Homo sapiens: one gene and its partners. The protein of the gene in region 4 interacts with the protein of the main gene of each other region in a biochemical or structural test. Each region holds a gene or a part of one and is shown on either strand. Other genes may lie near its edges. The genes, in order: AGAP2, MYL9, PPM1F and PRKAA1.

Region 1 (5,598 bases), on a different chromosome or scaffold from region 4:
CTGTTGAATCCACCTTTCCTGGGTCACGCCGCTGTGCTGGGTGGTCACAGCCTAGGACCCTGTAGAGCCGCAGCCTCCATGTGAACTGGATTCAGGTCTGGTGCTGTGTCCTCAGTTCAGTGGCACACTTGCAGCTGAACCTCTTGGGGCTGGTGGGCACCAAGGGTCAGAAGCAATTCTACCCAAAGATGCTGGTGCTACCAACTAACTCCTCAAGGTAGATAACAACATATGGCTGTGCCCAACCTGCACTGGCTGCTGACCCAACCCTACCCTGTCCAGCCCCTCTACCTGAGTAAACACTTTCAGCTGCCCTCGAGAAATGGTAGGATTGGCTATGTGCTGAGCCTAGTGGCACTGCAGCTCATGGAGGCAGCACCGGCTTCAGGCCGCTGTGGCCTTGGTGGTCCCTTTGATGGCACGGAGGTGGATAAATGCCTGCATCAGCTGACACTGAGTTTGTGGACACCAGGGACCTCTGCAGCTAGCTGGGAAATCTTTCCCAGGAGGTCTCCCACCCCTTCCCTCTGGAACACCCCCTGACGAGGCCAGGGGAGGAACCCCTACTCTATGTTCTACTCTGGTACCTAGTGCTCACGGTGAGCAGGCTGGCTCGGGGCAGCCCTCCTCAGAGCTGGAGCGCCTTTCAGGTGCCCTCTGAACAGATACTGTTCAGAATACAGATAAACAGATGCCACCAAGGTCCCCTAGCTGTGCAGTGGAGGGGCAGGTTTCAAAATCAGATCTGTCTCCAAAGTTCCTGCTCTTAAACAAAGCTGTCCCATCTTCCCACCCCTCTCCATGGGCCTGTCCTCTCCTCTAAGTACCATATCCCAACTCTCCCAGGACTGGCATCATCTTAAGAGTCAGTGCCTTCTCTGTTCCCAGGGTCCCCACTGACTCCAACCTGCCCACGTCCTCCACTACATGAACCCAGAACTGTTGTACATGATGGAACCACCTCCATGCCCATGGGTACTGTCCTGCCACCAGCCCCAGTGGGAGGCACCTCTGCCTGTCCCTGTCCAACCCCAGTACCCCATCTTGACCAAGGCCATGCCCTGACCTGCCTCCAAGAACAGACCAGCAGCTCACCCCCTAGACAAAATCACTTCCTCTTTAATTGCTGTTGAAGAAGATTCACACCACTGCCTCCAAGGAGATGGGGGGGCATTTCCCCCTTGCCCCCACCTCTCTCCCCTCCCCAATTACCTGGTCCTTTGCAAACTATTTTAGCCAGAAAAAAAAAAAAAAAAAAAGACCGGAAACCACTGACACAGACAGCCCAAGGGCTGGGTTGGCTGAGGGAGGCAGGGCTGGGCCAGGTAAGTCCGCCCTATCACCCAGTTTGTGGGGAAGGGGCAGGGGGCCTGGAAACCCTCCCAGCCACCTCGAATCCTCTCAGCCCTGGCTGGGAGAGGTCACGGGGGTGAGGAATGGCTCTGGAGCTGCTCCAGTGGGAGGGAGGGGCTGGACAGAAAGAATAATGGGGGAGGGGTCCCACTGTAGGGGTGCCCCCTACCCCAGATCACCACGGGCGCTGCACAGTCACAGGTACGCAGTCACGGTCACAGACACAACCCGAGAGCACCCCCACCCCAACCCACCCCCTGCCCACCCTGGGCTTCCCCTACCCCAAAACGCCCTCCCCACGCCCCTGCCCGCCCCCATCCCCATGTTGGGGAACAAAGCAATAAATTACAAGGCCCCCGCAGCCCTCTTAGCCCGCTCCTGCTCCATCCCTTCTCCCTCCCAAGATAGTAGTGGGAGGGACCCAGGCTCTTGGTTCCCCCCGGACTCTTTAGCTTCCACCCATGGGTAGGTGTAGGGGACGTCCTGGTTTCCACTACTCACGGTCCCTTTCACGGAAAGGGTTGGGAACCCCCACCCCCATGAGCAGCAGGGGTCCTGCCCCTCGCTGCCCTTGCCCCCTTCACTGGGCAGTGAGATGAGCATGGAAGGGGTAGGGTTTCCGTATTGGCCCCAAGTCCCGGGGCTAGCCCTCCCATGTACTAAACCCTCCCTCTGGCGTGGCGTCGCCCCAGGAGCCAGCCTGGGTATGGGCTCCCGCCCTGGGATTGTTGAGCTCGGGCAGGACCGGGTCTTCTTTCCGCCCCTAGGGGGCACAAGCGGGCATGTCCAAGCGCCTAGGAGCCCGTACCGCTGGGGACCTCCCCTTCCGCGAACCCCGAGCGGGTAGACCCAGAGCAATCCGAGTGTGGAAACAATGGAGAGGGGGCGTGTTGAGCTGGGGTCTCCATGCCTCGTTGGGGAGAGGGAGGTGAGTTTGTGTCTTCTGGAAGGCGTGGGGGCTGTGCCCTCGTGGGGGTAGGAAGTGCTCCCGTGGGGCGGGGTGCGGATCGGAGAGGTGAGTGGGTGCGTCTGTCCAGCGGTCCGCCCGGTGTGGTCGTGCCCGGCCCGCGTGGGGATGGGGGTGTCTCTCCCGCTGGGCAACTATACCAGCGCAACCGGGGCGTCGGCGCGGCCCACGCTAGCGGCGCTGCTCCGGCGGCGGGGGCTGGGCGTGGCGGTGATGCTGGGCGTGGTGGCCGCGCTGGGCGTGGTGGCCGCGCTGCCGCCCTCACCCGGGCAGCCGTGCTGGAGAAGGATGTCGGCGCACAGCTGGCTTCCAGCCTGGCGGGCGTAGAACAGCGCCGTGCGGCCCTGGGCGTCACGGGCCGCCACGTCCGCGCCGTACTAGAGGGCGGAAACGGCCGCGTGACCGCGCGTCCCCAGGGCGCCCACACCCGGCGCCGCCTCCCCCACATGGCCAAGCCTACTTCCGGGGTCCCTCTGGGAATTTCGGGCTTTCCCGCGCCAGGCGTTTTCCGAGATGAAGCCTCAAAGACCCCCTTTCCTCCCCCCAGCTCACGTACCCACAGCAGCAGTTGCGTGATGACGACGTGGGCGAGCTCGGCCGCCAGGTGGAGTGGGGAGCGCAGCTGTGGGTCCTCTACGCTGGTGTCGAGCGGCCCGTGTCGCGCATGGGCCAAAAGCAGGAGAACGGTAGCCACGTCCTGGGCCTGCACGGCGGCCCACAGCTGGCGGCCCAGCGGCTCCTCCGAGGTGCTCAGCGGCGCCAGGAACAGTAGCTGCTCGTACTTGGCGCGAATCCACGACTCGCGCTCCTCCCTGCAAGACCAGGGATCAACGGAAAAGGCTCTAGGGACCCCCAGCCAGGACTTCTGCCCCTACCCACGGGACCGTCTCAGGTTCGCACACCCTCAGCAACCCTCCCCCCGCTCTGTTCCCTCACGCTTACCGCGAAGAGTCCCGCGAGGGCTTGGCACGGCCTCGCGTGTCGCTTTCCCACACGCGGTTGGCCGTGTCGTTGCCAATAGCCGTCAGCACCAGGGTCAGCTCCCGTGGCCAGTCGTCCAAGTCCAGCGAGCGAACGCGGGACAGGTGTGTGCCCAGGTTGCGGTGGATGCCAGAACACTCGATGCAGATGAGGGCGCCCAGGTTCAAGCTGGCCCACGTGGGGTCTGCGGAAGGAGCGTAGAGGTCGGCTCCCAGCCGGGCAGCACAGGCACCCCGGCATTCACTACACTCCCTAGCCCCTCCGCTGCCTCCTGGCACTCACTGGGGGCCCCGCAGTCCACGCAGATTGAATTCCCCTTGGCGTTCCGGATCGCCTGGATGGCCACGGCCTCGCTTTGGCTGTCTGTGCGCAGCTGCAGAGAGGGTTTGGGTTGGCACTGACTCTGCCTCCAAGCCCCACCTCCTTCTCAGACACCTCTGCTCTCCTCTCACACGACTTCGGCCGTGTCGTTGCCAATGGCCGTCAGCACCAGGGTCAGTTCCTGCGGCCAGTCCTCCACTCCACCTCAAACTCTTACCTTGACCTTGCTGCTCTCACAGCATTGCAGACTGGCTAGGATCTGACTCTCGATGGCCTGGACCCAGGCATCCCGCTCCTCAAAACTGGCTGCCTCAAAGTGCCACGTCTGACCCGTGCTGGACACGATCAGGAACTCAAAGTTTTCCTCTGAGTGGGGGATGGGATGGGGTCATTAAGGGACAGAGTTCAAGCAGGGGCTGCCTTTCCCAAGACCGTCCTCCCTGATGTCCATCCCGAGCCCCTGGGAGTGGGGCAGTGGGGGTAGGGAAAGCAGAGGGTGGGGGGCAGCAGGAAGCCCGAGCACATGCAGGGGAAGGCGGGGGCACCCCCACCCTTCTGCACCCCAGCTGAGCGCCCCTCCCGGCTCCCCACTTGTTACCTGCTTTATAAATATTTCTTAAACTACCAAAGGATTTTAGTTTCCACATTTTGCGCTTGGCTGGTTTCCCGAAGCGAAGGAGATAGAGATAGAATGGAGAGCAGAACAGAGAAAGAGAGACCAAGAAAGAAGGAGAAAAAGACAGGTAGATGGAGAGATGGAGAGAGATAGTGACAGAGTGCCAGAGACAAAGCAGGACAGACAGATGGGGAGAGAAAGCAGAACTAAAGTCAGTGGCCCCGGAGCAGAGTGGAACAGAAGCCAAGAGCCATGAGAGTAGGCAGATCTGGAACCTGGGTCTGAGCACCCGGCAGAGAGCAGGGGCAGCAGGGATGGGTTATCAAGACCAGCGAGGAGCTGGACCTCTGGGAGAAGAAGGGAGGGTCAGGATCTGAGTGAACACGGGGGAAGGGGACAGAAGCTGGGGCGCAGGGCTGAGATGAGAGGGCCCTGGGGCTGGTGGCGGTGGGGGTGCGGGGAATCACTGAGGGACAAGAATGGGGATCACTATGGTCAAGGGCTGTTGGGGAGCACTTGGCAATAGAAAGTTATCGGGAGAAGGCCGGGCACGGTGACTCATGCCTGTAATCCCCACCGCCTGTAATCCCAGCACTTTGGGAGGCCGAGGCGGGCAGATCACGAGGTCAGGAGATCAAGACCATCCTGGCTAACACAGTGAAACCCAGTCTCTACTAAAAAATACAAAAAATTAGCCGGGCATGGTGGCAAGTGCCTGTAGTCCCAGCTACTTGGAAGGCTGAGGCAGGAGAATGGTGTGAACCCGGGAGGCAGAGCTTGCAGTGAGCCGAGATCGCACCACTGTACTCCAGCCTGGGTGACAGAGTGAGACTCCATCTCAAAAAAAAAAAAAAAAAAGAAAAGAAAAAAAAAAGAAAGAAAGTTATTGGGAGAAGGGGCTGGGTGGTCACAGAATCCAGGATCTGGGGAATCAGTGGGAGATGCTGAGATAAGGGGCTGAATCACTGGGGATCAGCGGGGCTGCCGGGTGCAGGGGCTGGGGTGGTAAGTGGAGTTGAGGGAAGGAAGAGGAACTAGAACGTCATTAGGAGAGGGAGCAGGAGCTATAGACATGGACATCGTTGAGAACAGGGGCTGGGGAAAGGAATTAGCTGGGGAACAAGGAAAGAAGGACAGGGGCTGGGGGATGTCCATCCACTCTTTCACTAAGTTGTGTGCAGTGGTAATGGTAGTCAAGCACTCAGCTCAGGCACTTTTCCTCCTGCTGCAGGAGTTAGGCCAGGGAGCTGATGTTGGGGATGAGGGTTCTGGGTGGGAGTGGAAGTGCCTGCCAGAGCCTCACCTTCAGCCTGCCCAGCCGAGCCTTCAGTCTTGGATGGTGTTGTCAATTTTTTCCTCC
Region 2 (5,052 bases), on a different chromosome or scaffold from region 4:
ACCAGCCTGGGCAACATAGCAAGATCCTCTCTCTACAAAAAATAAAAAATTAGTCAGGCGTGGTGGCACAGGTCTGTAGTAGCAGCTGCTCAGGAGGCTGAGGTGGGAGAATTGCTTGAGCCCAGGAGTTCTAGGCTGCAGGGACCTATGATCACACCACTGCACTCCAGCCTGAGCAACAGAAAGACCCAGTCTGAAAAAGCTAGACAAATACTAGGAAAAAATAGAAAATTTTACAGTTTTACAATGATGTTGAGCACTTAAAAATGTATTTGGTGAGTATTTAAAATGTTCTTATTAAGTGTATGTATTTTGGCCGGGCGTGGTGGCCCACCCCTGTAATCCCAGCACTTTGGGAGGCTAAGGTGGGTGGATCACAAGGTCAAGAGATGGAGACCATCTGGCGAACATGGTGAAACCCTGTCTCTACTAAATATACAAAAATTAGCTGGGCGTGGTGGCGCACACCTGTAGTCCCAGCTACTTGGGAGGTTGAGGCAGGAGAATCACTTGAACCCGGGAGGCGGAGGTTGCAGTGAGCCGAGATCACGCCACTGCACTCCAGCCTGGGAGAAAGAGCGAGACTCTGTCTCAAAAAAAAAAGAAAAAAATAAGTATATGCATTTCTTCTGAGATTCCTTTTCATGTTACCATTTTTTTCCTACGGCGTTGTCTTTTTCTGATTCAATTACTGAAGCTTTATATAGATTAGTGTTAACTCTTGTTTTGTTAAATATGCTGCAGGTATTTCCTCCCAGAATGCATTTGGCTTTTAATTTTGCTTATGGTTTCTTTAGCTCTACAAAAAGAATGTTGACTTCATGCATTTAAATCTGCCAGTATTTTCCTTTGTGGCTTCTGGGTTTTGTGCTAGACTTGGAAAGTTCCGGGGGTCCTTTACTGCTGGTCTGTGGGTGCTGCAGGTCCTGCCTTGCCCTGCCCAGAGCACGTTCCTCTTCCCTTCCTGTGGGTCAAGGTAGCCCCCAGGCCAGTTCTGAAGCCAGTGAGGCTGGACTGGTCCTGACCTCTTCCCGCCTGTGTGCGAAGCTCTTCCGTCTTCCGTCTCGGGGTGAAGGTGGGGTGAACTGTGACAGAATCGCACGCTGGGGCTTGACATCTAGATGACGCGTCCTTGCCTCCTTCCAGAAATGCCTTTGGTGCTGCAGTGGCTCTGCTGAGAGGACCTTATGACCCTGGTGTCGGGCATGTGTGGCCAGTACCCTGGGACACTCTGAGACCCCCCTCCCACACCCTTGGGGCTGGCAGCATCGAATGGGTGGCCAGACTGAGAGTTGCCCAGGGCCGTGTGTGTAGCTGGAGGCCTGCAGCCTGCTGCCGGGGGTGAGAATGTGTTTGGGACTGAGTTTGGGATACTATTTGGGCCTGGTTTGGAACTTGTTCGGGTCTCGCCCCTTCTGGAGTTGATACCAGGGACTTTTGGGCCTCTGTTTGGAGCCAGGATGAGGAGTTTCAGCCGAGCTCTGAGCAGGGCCTGGCGTTGAGGCCTGCAGGAGGTTAGGGCCTCCTGGTCAGGCACAGGGTCCCCTGGTGCTCAGCTCCCCCTTGGCCCTGATCTGGGACCTTTGCTGAGTGCTGCGGCTGCCTGCGCTGGGTGACCTCTGGAGAAGGCCTCAGGACCAAGCTGGGTCCACTCGCTGGGGTCAGGTGGGGTGGGTCCGGCCCTCACTCTTCCCTAGGCCTATTGGGTGACCCAGGCAGTCCATGCCCCTCTGGACTCTCTGCTCAGTCATTCAGCGCTCTTTCTGCCCCTCTTAGGCCCCAGGCACTGCCATCAGTGTCCCCATCATCCACCAGTAGCAGGGGTCCCGGCCCTGCCTGCCCTGCGTACACAGGGACATGGAAAGCTGTGGCCCCCATGCTGTTGGTCCTGGGGCTGAACTCGCCCTCCACCTGCCTGGGGCTGGGAAACCCCTCATTCCCACCTCCAACCCTGAGCTGCTGGGACGCCTGCCTCATCACTGTTGGAGCCTCCCTGTTCTTCTGGAACCCGGAGCTTTAGTCCTGAGGGCTGTGTGGCCTGACCTCTGCCCCCCAAGAGGCCTGGAACCCTCCACGGGATTGGCTGTGGTGATTCCCATGGTCCTCCCTTTCCCACAAGCCCTGAGAAGGCCATGAGGCCCATTCCCTCCGTCCCCTGTCCCCTGCTGGTCTCAGCTGAGCACAGAGCCCACTTACTAGGGACTCTGGTCCCTAGAGGCTTCAGGGACCATATGGCCGGAGGACACCCAGTCCTTCCCTGGGCCAGGGTGGGAGGAGCAGGGCAGTAACTGGAGATGGCAGGAGAAGGTGGGAGAGGGTTTCAGGCCCGGGGTCCCCTTACTTCACCCCAGCCACAGACACACAGACCAGAAGCAGTGCTCAGTCCTCTATTGGAGATTCTGCCCCCTCTGGGACAGATGTCCACGCTGCCCGCGACTCCTGAGCACACTCCCATGGCGGGTGGCGTGCTCTGGGTGGGTGTGCGGCAGTGGCCGGTCAGGGTGTAGGGAAGGGGACTGAGAGGGGACCTTGGTGAGCTTGCATTTGTGTGGGGATACACGTGAAGGGGTGTCTGATCCCAGGACTCAGGGCCTCTTCCTCCTGGGGGGCACACAGAGCCCCTTCCCTTCCTCCTCGGGGAACAGCCCCGGAATGGGGCCTTCCCTTGGTGCCTCTAGGTCCTGCCCTCCAGCCCATGTCCCCAGAAGGTGGTCTTTCCTTGGAGGGGTCAGAGACTATAGCCCAGGGCTCTGGGGTCACTGTGGGAACATCTGCCTCAGCTCGGCACGCACTTCTCCTGGCCTGTTTCTTCCACTGGGAACTGGGACCCTAACCCCTCAAAGGGGGATCCCTGAGCGAGGGTCATGGGCAGGGAGCTGGTATGGACGGGTGTGTGCGGGGAGGGGTGACTGGCGGGGGCTGGGGTGTCAGGGGGCTGGGGTGGCCTAGTCGTCTTTATCCTTGGCGCCATGTTTGAGGATGCGGGTGAACTCCACGTAGTTGAAGTTGCCTTTCTTATCAATGGGTGCCTCCCGGTACATCTCGTCCACTTCCTCATCTGTGAAGCGGTCACCCATGGTGGTGAGCAGCTCCCGGAGGTGGTCCTCATGGATGAAACCTGCGGGCAGGGGCAGGGTGGGTGAGAGCAGGAACTTGGGCTGAGACATACACAGCAGCCCCATCCCTCAGCCCCCTGGCAGCTCTTGCAGACCTAGAGGGGCTGGGAAGATACAATCTTAGTCTCTGGTCAGTCTGAGGAATGAGGACGTGGCAGGAGGGGTGTGGGGGTGCACGTGAAGGGGTGTCGGATCCCACGTGAAGGGGTGCCAGGGTCCTGAGGGGAGGAGTTGTGCAGTGGGACTGTCTCCGAGGTGTCACTTGGGGAACTTGAGGCTGTGCACACAGATGGTGTTGGGTGTGCCCTGTTTTAAGCGTGAGCTCTGGAGTTCCACTGCCTGAGTTGCAGTGCTGATTCCCATTCTCCCTAGCTATGTGACTTTGGGCAAGGTCCTTAACCTCCGTGTGCCTGTTTAATCTAGAAAACAGGGATGAACGTATGCCATTGCAGTGAGGGACCGTGAAGGTAGTCAGGCCCGTGCGGGCCCATGGCCATGTTACCATGGCCATCATCACCCTGACATGTCCCTGGGAAAAATGAGCTGAGGGATGGAATATCCGTTAGGAGATCCGAGGAGGGGGGCCAGTTTCTATACCTTCTTGGCAAGAAAGGCATGAAATGGTTTGATTTCTGGAAAGGTCTAAAACAGATGGAGAATGTGCATTGGGCCAGCGGGGGAGATCACGAAGGCAGGAGTCTTGGGGCATGGGCTGTTCTGGCCTAGCCTTTGCGGCGACAATAAGGAGGTGGCCTGGCTTTTATAGTTCTGGTGACAGAACCTGGGAGATGGGTGATGTCTGTTCTGGCCCTTAGGGGCAGAGGCACTGAATGCCTGGGCCCTGTTCCACTTGCATGCAGAGTGGTGGTAGGGGGCGCCACGGACCTGAGGCTTCCTCGTCGAAGCAGGCAAAGGCGTTGCGAATCACATCCTCGGGGTCCGTGCCGTTCAGCTTCTCCCCAAACATGGTGAGGAACATGGTGAAGTTGATGGGCCCCGGGGCCTCGCTCATCATGCCCTCCAGGTATTCGTCTGTGGGGTTCTTCCCTGTGGCAGGTGGGGTGTTCCAGCCTGTGGTCCTGGGCCCTCTGTCCCCAGCTGGGACAACTTGCACCCCCGTCCCCCACCCCTGCCCTTCACCGCTCCGTGTGAGACGGGAGGTAGTGGGTTTTGTGAACTGGAAAGCATGGCTCTAGCGCAGCCACAGCAGTGGGCGCCCGGAGTCCCTGGCTGCTCCCACCAGTTTCCTCCTGTGGCCTGGATGTCAGCAGCCGGCAGTGCTCACTAAAGTGTAATAAGAACAACCCTCTGCAGACTGCTCGCTGTGGCTGGTCGACCACGTGCCTTATTGCATTTAACTTTCACCACCCTGTGAAGTCAGCATTCTTACCCACTTCACAGGTATGGAAGCTGAGGCACAGAGAGGCCAGGTGACTTGTCCAGGGTCAGACAGCAAGTAAGGAGGAGACTTGAGTAGACCTGGCATTTGAACCCAGGCAGCCTAACTCCAAAGTCCAGACACAGTGCTTTGCTGTCAGACAGGCCTGGGTTTGGATCCCAGCTGTGCACCTTGGTTTTCCCCATCTCTTAGGGGAATTGTGAAGACAGTAGTTGCAAAAGGCTCATAACAATGACTGGCACAGGCCTATGGACTGGAATCAACTGCTGGGTTTCTATTGCAGCCCCACTACTTGGTAGCTGTGTGACCTTGGGTAAATTACTTAACCTCTCTGAGCCTCAGTTTCCTTGTTTGTAAAGTGGGAATAATTGTATCTGTTCAATAGGATTGCTTTGAGATTTAAGATAATACCTGCAGGGCTTCTTCTTATTATTATATTTGCTGCTCTTGTTTTTAACTTGAAGATAAGGGTGTGACTCACCTGCAGACCCACGGATATGAGCTACAAACACAGTGCATGTTTTTCTGGGTGGACAC
Region 3 (5,052 bases), on a different chromosome or scaffold from region 4:
GATTACAGGCAGGCACCACCACGCCCGGCTAATGTTTTTTGTATTTTTAGTAGAGATGGGGTTTCACCATGTTGGTCAGGCTGGTCTCGAACTCCTGACCTCAGGTGATCCACCCGCCTTGGCCTCCCAAAGTGCTGGGATTACAGGCGTGAGCCACCGCGCCCAGCTACTTTTTTTTTTTTTTTTGAGACACAGTCTGGCTCTGTTGCCCAGGCTGGAGTGCAGTGGCACGATCTCCGCTTACTGTAACCTCCGCCTCTGGGTTCAAGCACTTCTCCTCCCTCAGCCTCCCAAGTAACTGAGATTACAGGCGCGTGCCACCACACCTGGCTAACTTTGTATTTTTTGTAGAGAAGGGGTTTCACCATGTTGGCCAGGCTGGTCTCGAACTCCCGATCTCAGGTGATCCGCCCACCTTGGCCTCCCAAAGTGCTGGGATTACAGGCGTGAGCCAGCATGCCCAGCCAGACCCATTACTTTTTAAAATTTTTATTTATTTTTATTATTATTTTTTGAGACAGAGTTTTCCTCGTTATCCAGGCTGGAGTGGAGTGGCGCGATCTCAGCTCACTGCAACCTCCGCCTTCTGGGTTCAAGTGATTCTCCTGCCTCAGCCTTCTGAATAGCTGGAATTACAGGGGCTCACTACCATGCCTGGCTAATTTTTTGTATTTTTTTTTTAGTAGACATGGGGTTTCATCAGGCTGGTCTCGAACTCCCGACCTCAGGTGATCCACCCACCTCGGCCTCCCAAAGTGCTGGGATTACAGGCGTGAGCCACCGCGCCCAGCGAACCCACTTTTTTCCCAAAAGAGAAAAAAGGATTGTCAGCATGAACGCGGGAGGAGGATAAACCTCATTTCCGGAATATTGGAAGCTCTACTTCCAGCCCATAGGGTGGTGAGCCACAGGTTTCTATGAGATTTGTAGGAGCTGTTTTAGGTGAGATAATAACATACAGTGTAACTTACACTCAGACACTGGTGCTGCAGTCTCTGAATCTGCCCTGTTCCCTTCACACTACGAGGGTATCACCCCAGTGCATGACAAATCCCCCTCGGCCCATCACACTGCCTCCCTGAACCCCTGGTGAGCCGCGGGCCACACTCGAGGCCTGGGCTTCCGAGAGACCTTCTCCCACTTGGGTCGGCCTCTTTGGCTCTCACCGATGGCTCTGGAGACGGCCAGGGTCCCGTTGACTCTCCAGCAGTCCATGTGAGACACAAAGCCACCCAATGCTTCAATGCGCGCCTTCTCATCCTGCAGAAACACAGCCAGAGTTGGGGGCAGGGCCGGGGGGATGGGGCGTGAAGCCCCCTGCTGCTACCTGAGCAGAGGCACAGCTGCTTCTAAGACAGCAGCATTCAAAGCCGCAGCACTGGAACAAAGCCAGGAGGCTCAGAGATGCACCCAAACGAGGCTCATCAAAAACAGTGAGAAATTATACACAACCCACAAGTCCTTTAGTTGCAGGAATGGTGAAATGAACGGACCACCTGAGGCCGCCTAGCGGTGCCTGCGCCCCTGGGCAGCATTCTGGGTCAGGGAGGCACTCACGAGGCTTGCGAGCCCGACACAGACAGCAGATCCTTCTGCTTCCCTGTCTCTAGCTCGGGGACACCGTCTCTGCCCTGAAAGCTGCTGGGCCAAGATGGAGCATGTGACGTGAGTGGTCACACAGCAGGGAAGCCTGAGCGAGGCCCTGACGGCAGCCTGTGCCCGCCCAGTTCTTTTTTTTTTTTTTTTTTGAGACAGAGTCTCGCTCTGTCACCTGGCTGGAGTGAAGTGGCACGATCTTGGCTCACTACAACCTCTGCCTCCTGGGTTCAAGTGATTCTCCTGCCTCAGCCTCCTGAGTAGCTGTGACTACAGGGGCGTGCCACCATGCCCAGCTAATTTTTTTGTGTTTTTAATGGAGACAGGGTTTCTCAAAGTTGGCCAGACTGGTCTCGATCTCCTGACCTCATGATCCACCCTCCTCGGCTTCCCAAAGTGCTGGGATTACAGGTGTGAGCCACCGCGCCTGGCCTAGTTCTTGTCCTCCTCTACCCAAGCTCAGCACAGGCACAGTCTCCACTCAGCTGGGGACCACAACACCCCAGGCCTGGGTTCCTCCAGGGACAGGACAGAGGCTTGGTCCACCCACAAGTCCTCTAGAAACCTCTTTGGTCCTATCAGCCTCTGCCCAAAGGAGAGGCTGCCCCGATGAGAGCCTGCTGACTGAAGCCTGCACAACAGCATCCCTGACAGAGTGACGGAGGCACCCTGGGAGTGAGGCACCTCCCAAGTCTACTGGGGGAAGAGGGCATCCCTTACCGGTTTATCAGGTAAACCTCTTGACCCCACGCAGCACCAGCCCTTCTAGTCCCCAGGCACAGCACCAGCTGGGCATGAGAACTCTGATGCCCCAGGTGATGGTGTCCCCTAGACAGATTGGGATATCAGCCAATTCCCTCCCCAGAGCAGACGGACATGCACTGCGGGAGGCCTGGGGGAGGCAGCCCTCTCCAGATGCCTGCACCAAGGACCAGGCCTCTTTATGTGGCTCCCCTGCAGAGGGCATTGTGGTGGGAATGACATGGGTTTGCAGGAGTCCCGGCCTTCCTGGGCACTGCAGCCATGAGCCTGTGTGGGAACTGGACCAGTGCCTGGTAGGCTGGGTGCTCCTGTCCCAGCTGAGGTGGAGAATCAAGCCATGAAGGGGGCAGGAACAGGGACCTCAAGGCTCTCTCTGGGTCTAAGATCTGCCACCTCCGGGGTCTGAGCAGGGCAAGGGAAAGGCAAGGAGGACCAGGAAGGAGGGAAGAGCAGGAGACAGCCAAGAAGAGGGCAGGAGAAAGGGCACGGGGAGAGGCAGGTGGATGAACACAGAGTACGCACGAATGTTCACACATACATGTGCCCACACACACGCGTGAAGGCGCCTGCAGACGGCGAGGAGCTGCAGAGGAAGCAGCGCCTCCTCCCCTGTGCCTCAGAGGCGTTCCCTGGGGAGGGGCTGTGAGCGTGGGAGGCTCCAGGGAGAATGAGGAGCCTTTCTCTGCTTCTGTCTCCCACACACCCCAGCCCACTCCAGCCCCTCAATGTCCCAGAGGCAGGAATGTGGGCAGGTGATGGAGAATGAACGGCAATCTGCTTCCCATGCCCTCTGGAGGTGGCTCTCCCCCACAGGGGGCCATGCAGGCTAAGCTTAGAACCTTCCTACCTGAAGCCCCTCCCCACCACCAGGGATGGCTGTGGGACAGGGTGGAGCCAAAGGGCAGGAGGGCACAGGGGCTGTGCTGCTCCCCTGCAGCCTGTGATCCCCTCTCCTGCCATTCTGCACCCCCTGTGCTGGACAGGCTGCGCCGGCTCCCCGGGCTCGCCCCTCTAACCCTGGCCCTGAACCTGGGTCCTCCTCCCCTCCAGTGGCTCCCACCTCCGTCACACACTGGCCAGGCTCAGTCTGGTCCGGGACTAACATATCCCCAGGCTAAGGGGTCTTGTCCCATTCCCCCTGAGTCTCCTAGTCACTGATTCTTGATTCTGTTTTTTGTTTTGTTTTTTTTTTTTTTTTTTTTTTTTTTTTGGAGACAGGGTCTTGCTTTGTTGCCAAGGCTGGAGTGCAGTGTCATGAACATAGCTCACTGCAGCCTCGACCTCTAGGGCTCAAGCCATCTCCTGCCTTCGCCTCCCGACTGCCCAGCGCCCACCCCCTCAGCAGCTCTTCCCTCTGCTCCTCAAACCTCATCCTCTCCACCTGCCTGAAACAGCTTCCCAGGTCAAAGCTGGAGCCGGTGGCCTGTGGGTTCCTGTGAACAGCCATTTCCTGCTTCCTAGGAGTGCAGTGCTCCACACGGCCAGGCCGCAGCAGCGTCGCCTATGGCACTGCCATCCTCCTGGATGCCCAAGGCCCTCTGCGATGTCTCCACCTGCAGAGCCGGGACTCCTATCTCTCCCAGGCTGCCTGCCAGGCGTGCCAGCGTGACCTGTGACCTTGAGTGACTCTCACTGCCCTCCTGAACTCACTTTTGTGACCCAGCCCTCAACTTGTCCTCCAGTGGCCTGATCACTTCAGAAGCTTCTAGTGAGTCCTTACAGAGTTCCTCCCAGCCTGGGGCAGTCCAGCTTTTCCAGCTGAAGGAGCAGCAGGTGGGTGGTCTTCTCCCCTGCCCCGAGTCTTCTACCCACTGATTCTGGGGCTTGTTTTTGTTTTTTGAAGACAGGGTCTCACTCTGTTGCCAAGGCTGGAGTGCAGTGTCATGAACATAGCTCACTGCAGCCTCAACCTCTAGGGCTCAAGCCATCCTCCTGTCTCCTGAGGCTTGAGAGGTGGGAGGATCACTTGGGGCACACCTCCACACCTGGCCCTGATTCTGGCATAACCTGCCCTTTCCTCCTGGTCTCTCCCCTGGCCTGCAGGAATTGCAACTGCCTGAGATGCGGCTCCATTCCATTCATCTCTCTGCCTCATCCTGCCAGGTCCTTGCCCTCCTCCTGCTCCCCCATTAGACTTAGAGGCAGGAAGTGGGTCCTGTGTTATCTCACTGCCTCAACAAAGTATCTTGTGCAGAGTGGGCACTCAGTGTTTGGAGGCTGAACTGAGTGCAGAGGCAGGAGACTGTTCAGACAGCCGCAGAACAAGGCAGAGCACCACGCACTCCCCCCACGTACTCCTGGAAGCTGCTCTGGGCCGCTGCTGGACCCCCGTTGAAGCTCGCCAAGTTGAGGCCAGTTTCTTGCTCTTGTAACCGACATGATGCTTGTTTTTGTGGGAGAACCTTGGCCTGGATCTGTGATTAATTCTCTAGGGTGGAAGGCTGTGATCAGGATCACAGCAGGAGGGGCCAAGCCTACAGAGCATGGCGGCAGGAAAGGGGAGGTGGGGGGCACTGGATCTGAACTCCTTGGCCCATGCGGGCTGCAGCCAAGAACACAGACACCTGTGTGTGCTTCTCTTGTGCAAGCTCTGATCTCTGTGCTCCACATGCACTGGGACACTCAATCCTTACCCCAAACCTCCAGGGACCCCTGTGTGATGGACTTGGAAGCGGTGGAGCCGGGACCAGGCAA
Region 4 (5,052 bases):
AAGCCACAGGGTAACTACAAAGCAAAAGCCTTTGCTTTTGCAAAAGATAAAAAGAAAAAATCCAAAGTGGACCACTACAGAAAGCAATCGAGCCACAAAGGGGGAAAGTAATAGAGAAAGGGACAAAGGTTCTACAGAAACACTAGAAAACAATTAACAAAATGGCACTACTAAGTCCTTACCTATCAATAATTACTTCCAATGTAAACAGATTAAATTCTCCAAACAACAGGCATAGAGTGGCTAAATGGATAAAAAACAAGATCCAACTCTGCGCTGCCTATAAAGAGACTCACTTCACCATAAAGGACACTCATAGACTGAAAATGAAGGGACTGAAAAAGATATTCCATACAAATGCAAACAAAAAGAGAACAGAGATAGCTATATTTATTTCAGACAAAATAGACTTTAGGTCCAAAGAGAACAAAGCTGGAGGCATCACACTACCATGTTTGAAAATATATTACAAACCTATAGTAATTAAAACAGCACGGCACTGACATAAAAACAGACATGTCCACCAATGGAATAGGATGGATAGCCCAGAATAAATGCATATATCTATAATCAATGGATTTTTGACAAAGGTGCCAAGACTACACAATGTGGAAAGGACAGTCTCTTCAATAATGTCATTTGGAAAACTGGATAGCCACATACAGAAGAATGGAAATGGACCCTTATCTCACCCCTTAACAAGTATCAACTTAAAATGGATTAAATTTAGGACCTGAAATTACAAATCTACTAGAAGAAAACTTAGGCGAGAAGCTCCATGACACAGGTTTGGGCAATCATTTCTTGTATATGATCCCCTAATGCACAGGCAACAAAAGCAATAATAAACAAATGGGATGACATCAAACTAAAAAGCTTCTGAACAGCAAAAAACAAACAAACAGGCCAGACGCGTAATCCCAACACTTTGGCAGGCCGAGGCAGGCGGATCACAAGGTCAGGAGTTCGAGACCAGCCTGACCAACATGGTGAAGCCCTATCTCTACTAAAAATACAAAATTAGCTGAGCGTAGTGGTGCACACCTGTAGTCCCAGCTACTCATGAGGCTGAGGCAAAAGAATCGCTTGAACCCGGGAGGCGGACGCTGCAGTGAGCCAAGATCACGCCATTGCACTCCAGCCTGGGTGACAGAGGGAGACTGCATCTCAAAAAAACAAACAAACAAGCAAAAACAAATAGAGTGAAGAGACAACCCAAAGACTGAGAAAACGTATTTACAAATCATGCATCAGATATATAGCTAATATCCGGCCAGGCATGGTGGCTCATGCCTGTAATCTCAGCACTTTGGGAGGCCGACGCGGGTGGATCACTTGAGCCCAAGAATACAAGACCAGTCTAAGCAACACAGTGAGACCTTGTCTCTATAAAACATACATAAATTAGCCAGGCGTGGTGGTGTATGCCTGTAGTCCCAGCTACTTGGGAGGCAGAGGTGGGAGGATCGCTTGAGCCCAGGAGGTCAAGGCTGCAGTGAGCCATGATCATGCCACTGCACTCCAGCCTGGGCAACAGAGTGAGACACTGTCTCAAAAATAAAAATAAAAAAAAAGACAAACAAATGGCCAACAGATAGATGAAAGAATGCTGAACATCTCTAATCATAAGAGAAATGCAAATTAAAGCCACAATAAGGTATCACCTCACACCTGTTAGACTGGCTATTATCAAAAAGGTGAAAGATAAGTGTTAGCAAGGTCACAGAGAAATGGAACACTTATACACTGCTGGTGAAACTATAAATACAGCCATTTTGTAAAACAGTGTAGAGGTTCCTCACAAAACTAAAAATAGAATTACTATATGATCCAGCAATCCCATTACTGAGTATATATCCAAAGGAATTGAAATCAGTATGTCAGAGGTGTCTGAGACTCACTTATATTTGGAATCTAAAAAAGTCAAACTCACAGAAGTAGAGAGTAGAATGGTGATTACCAGTAGCTGGGGTAAGTGGGGCTGGAGGGGAAAAGGAAGATATTGGTCAATGGCTACATAAAATTACAGTCAGGAGGAACAGGATCCTGGTGTTGTATTGCATAGCATCATGATTACAGTAAATATATTAATTTTTCAAAAGAGTTAAAAAAGGGAACTTTAAATGTTCTCACCACAAAGAAATGATAAATATTTGAGGAGATGGATATACTACTTGGCCTGATTTGATCAGTGCAGAATGTATACATGTATCAAAACATCACATTGTGCCCCATAAATATATACAATTGTTATTTATTAAAGATAGATTTTCTTTTTTATTTACTTATGGTAGGAATGGCCTTCATTGGTTGCAATAGGAAGCGAAAGAGGAGACCTGAAATCAAATGAAAAAGCGTAAGCATCCTGGGGAGAAGCCCACTGGATCTCAGTTCTGCCCTGCTCAGGAAAGTTCAGTATCCAGGTGACTGAGAACAGAACCGGCTGGCACCAAAGACATGATTTTGAGGGGGCCGGAGCCCTTTCCCTTTGCCTCCATACATAACAGGAGCAGGACCACACACTCAGTCCCTGACAAGAAAAGGAGGGTGGATTTTCTAAACTATGATATTCACCATTAAAATTAACAAGTTAACAGAAGTAATATTTTTTGAAAACAGGTTTTCTAATTGTACTACACATGATCATGACTTCTTAAATGGAACACATGTACATGAAGACTGGGAACCAAACAAATGTTAACTTATGAGTATCAACTGCTCCTTATACCCTCACACAGTGACAGCAGTGGGAGTTATTTAGCAGGATAGGGCTTTTTGCTCCCAGCCTATAGTGTTCCAGCTCGTGTGGTTTTCCGCTTTTTGAATTTGTATCCCAGCCTTCATAGTCTATCAGGAGTCAACTCTTTCTTTTTTTTTTTTTTTGTTGTTGTTGTTGTTGTTGAGATGGAGCCTCGCTCTGTCGCCAGGCTGGAGTGCAGTGGCACAATCTCGGCTCACTGCAACCTCTGCCTCCGGGGTTCAAGCAATTCTCCTGCCTCAGCCTCCCGAGTAGCTGGGACAACAGGCGCATGCCACCACACCCAGCTGATTTTTGTATTTTTAGTAGAGATGGGGTTTCACCATGTTGGCCAGGATGGTCTCAATATCTTGAGCTCGTGATCTGCCCGCCTTAGCCTCCCAAAAGTGCTGGGATTACAGGCGTGAGCCACCACACCCGGCCTTCAGTAGCATAATACTTTTTAAAATATGGCATCTAATAGCTTAGGAGACACTCACATTATCACATTTGAGCATAAACCTATGATGGAGGTATTGTCTTTTACAGATAAAGAAACTGAGGCTCTAAGAGATTCTGTAAGTTGTGGAAGTAAAGCTATTGTGATCAAGTTGGGACAGGTCTTCCGACTCCCAAGTCTTTTGACCTATCCACTCTCCCCACCATCACTGTGCAGTGAGAGGGACAAAGGGCTTGGCATGGTATCAGAAACTAAACTGTTTTCTCAAAACCAGGCTAAATATTCTCCCCAGTGAGTAAACTCAGTTGTAGCCAAACTAAATGCTGTTCCATAGTCAATCAATGAATGTAGTAAATGGACTCTGTCAGGCATATGCACTACTAAGGGATTCCCCCCTTTTTCAAAATTCAAACTTTATTCTTCAGACTGTCAGTTTTTAGAATAGTGCTAAGGTTTTGCTTTTAAATGAAACGGAAGACAGATATTTTGGCCACGGAAGACTTGCACATTACTCAGAGCAAATATTACCAGCATTCACAATGTCCCCCTCACAAGAATAGCAGATTAGTCAACTAAATATTAGCTAACAACCATGCTATTGCTATCTAAAGGGAACTTTGTCTAACTGCATAACATTGTAACAAATGCTCTTCTAATTAGATATATAATCCTGAAGGGAAACAAGATCATACTTTGAAACAGAGGATTTTAATAGGACAGAGAAGCAGCAAAGATAGAAATATCTACTAAAGATATTCTAGACACCTAACCATTTCATTCCCACTTTAAAATTGAAAGAATAAAAACGTGTTAAGGAAATAGCTTAATCCTGGGGAAGGGTGGGCTTTAAAAGCTATAGATCGTAATTTAAGAAAGCAAACAAACATTTCAAGCACACCAAGGGCATTCCAAATACCCATGAGCCACCATCAGCTTAAGCAATAAAACATTACAAATACAACTCAAGCCCTGCATGACTCCTCCCAGATTCCCTTATCCTTCATCTGTCCTCAGAAGTAACCACTATCCTGAATTTGGTGTTTGTGTTTCCCACGTTTAAATATTTTTACATGGGTAGGAATCCATAAAAAATATAGTAACATTATTTTTCATATTTATTTTTACAAATGTCATTGCATATATTTTGATAACACAATACCTGCACTATACACACAGTTCAAAAGTACAAAAGCATCTATGGTGCAACACAATGTCCTCCTTTACCTAGTCCCCTATACTGAGCAACTAACGTAACCAGTCTTGTGTGTATCTTTAAAGAGACATACTCTATATATAAAAGCAGTCACATTTAAGATACAGATTTGCCCCTGCCTTTTATACATAAGTGGTAGGCATATTGAACACACTGTTCTACTTTTTCCTCTTAAAAATACACCTTGGAAATTGTTCTCTAAAATATACAAAGTTCCTCCCTTTTTCTTCCTTAATGTTTGCAAGGTATTTCACTATATGGATAAACCATAACTATTACTATTAGAAAGGTTACTTCGAAAGTTTTGTATTAATATTTACAACAATATGGCAGCGAATAACCCATTATTTCATACACGAGTACATCTATAAAATAATTCCTAGAAGTTGAATTGTTAGGTTAATTTTAATAAATGCTGTCACTCTCTCATGTAGAGGTAGGATACCAATTTATACTCTACCAGCATTGTATGAGTGGTTCTGTAGGTTTCTAAAATTTATATAAATAACAGCAAACTATACATATTCTTATACAACTTGCTTTCGAGGTCTAACCTTATATTTTTAAGATTCATTCACACTGATATATATAGCTCTAGTTCATGTTTATAATTTTTACTTAAAGGAATTTTTAAATAACTTC

The links.
Region 1: the proteins of PRKAA1 (region 4) and AGAP2 form a complex in vitro, tested with the Homo sapiens proteins (one study listed by BioGRID).
Region 2: of the proteins of PRKAA1 (region 4) and MYL9, one has a biochemical effect on the other in vitro, tested with the Homo sapiens proteins (one study listed by IntAct).
Region 3: of the proteins of PRKAA1 (region 4) and PPM1F, one has a biochemical effect on the other in vitro, tested with the Homo sapiens proteins (one study listed by BioGRID).

The regions. Positions count from the first base shown.
Region 1 is NC_000012.12:57,724,098-57,729,695, forward strand, and holds the end of AGAP2 (arf-GAP with GTPase, ANK repeat and PH domain-containing protein 2), read right to left. Parts: coding exon 5,542-5,598; intron 4,281-5,541; coding exon 4,221-4,280; exon of another isoform or gene 3,989-4,220; coding exon 3,840-3,988; exon of another isoform or gene 3,675-3,839; coding exon 3,584-3,674; exon of another isoform or gene 3,486-3,583; coding exon 3,263-3,485; exon of another isoform or gene 3,133-3,262; coding exon 2,877-3,132; exon of another isoform or gene 2,868-2,876; intron 2,698-2,867; coding exon 2,455-2,697; 3' UTR 1,100-2,454; downstream 1-1,099. UniProt on the Homo sapiens protein: GTPase-activating protein (GAP) for ARF1 and ARF5, which also shows strong GTPase activity. Isoform 1 participates in the prevention of neuronal apoptosis by enhancing PI3 kinase activity.
Region 2 is NC_000020.11:36,547,143-36,552,194, reverse strand, and holds the end of MYL9 (myosin regulatory light polypeptide 9), read right to left. Parts: intron 4,164-5,052; coding exon 4,002-4,163; intron 3,119-4,001; coding exon 2,946-3,118; 3' UTR 748-2,945; downstream 1-747. UniProt on the Homo sapiens protein: Myosin regulatory subunit that plays an important role in regulation of both smooth muscle and nonmuscle cell contractile activity via its phosphorylation. Implicated in cytokinesis, receptor capping, and cell locomotion.
Region 3 is NC_000022.11:21,924,403-21,929,454, forward strand, and holds part of PPM1F (protein phosphatase 1F), read right to left. Parts: intron 1,261-5,052; coding exon 1,167-1,260; intron 1-1,166. UniProt on the Homo sapiens protein: Dephosphorylates and concomitantly deactivates CaM-kinase II activated upon autophosphorylation, and CaM-kinases IV and I activated upon phosphorylation by CaM-kinase kinase. Promotes apoptosis.
Region 4 is NC_000005.10:40,787,658-40,792,709, forward strand, and holds part of PRKAA1 (5'-AMP-activated protein kinase catalytic subunit alpha-1), read right to left. Parts: intron 2,548-5,052; exon of another isoform or gene 2,414-2,547; intron 2,377-2,413; exon of another isoform or gene 2,295-2,376; intron 1-2,294. UniProt on the Homo sapiens protein: Catalytic subunit of AMP-activated protein kinase (AMPK), an energy sensor protein kinase that plays a key role in regulating cellular energy metabolism.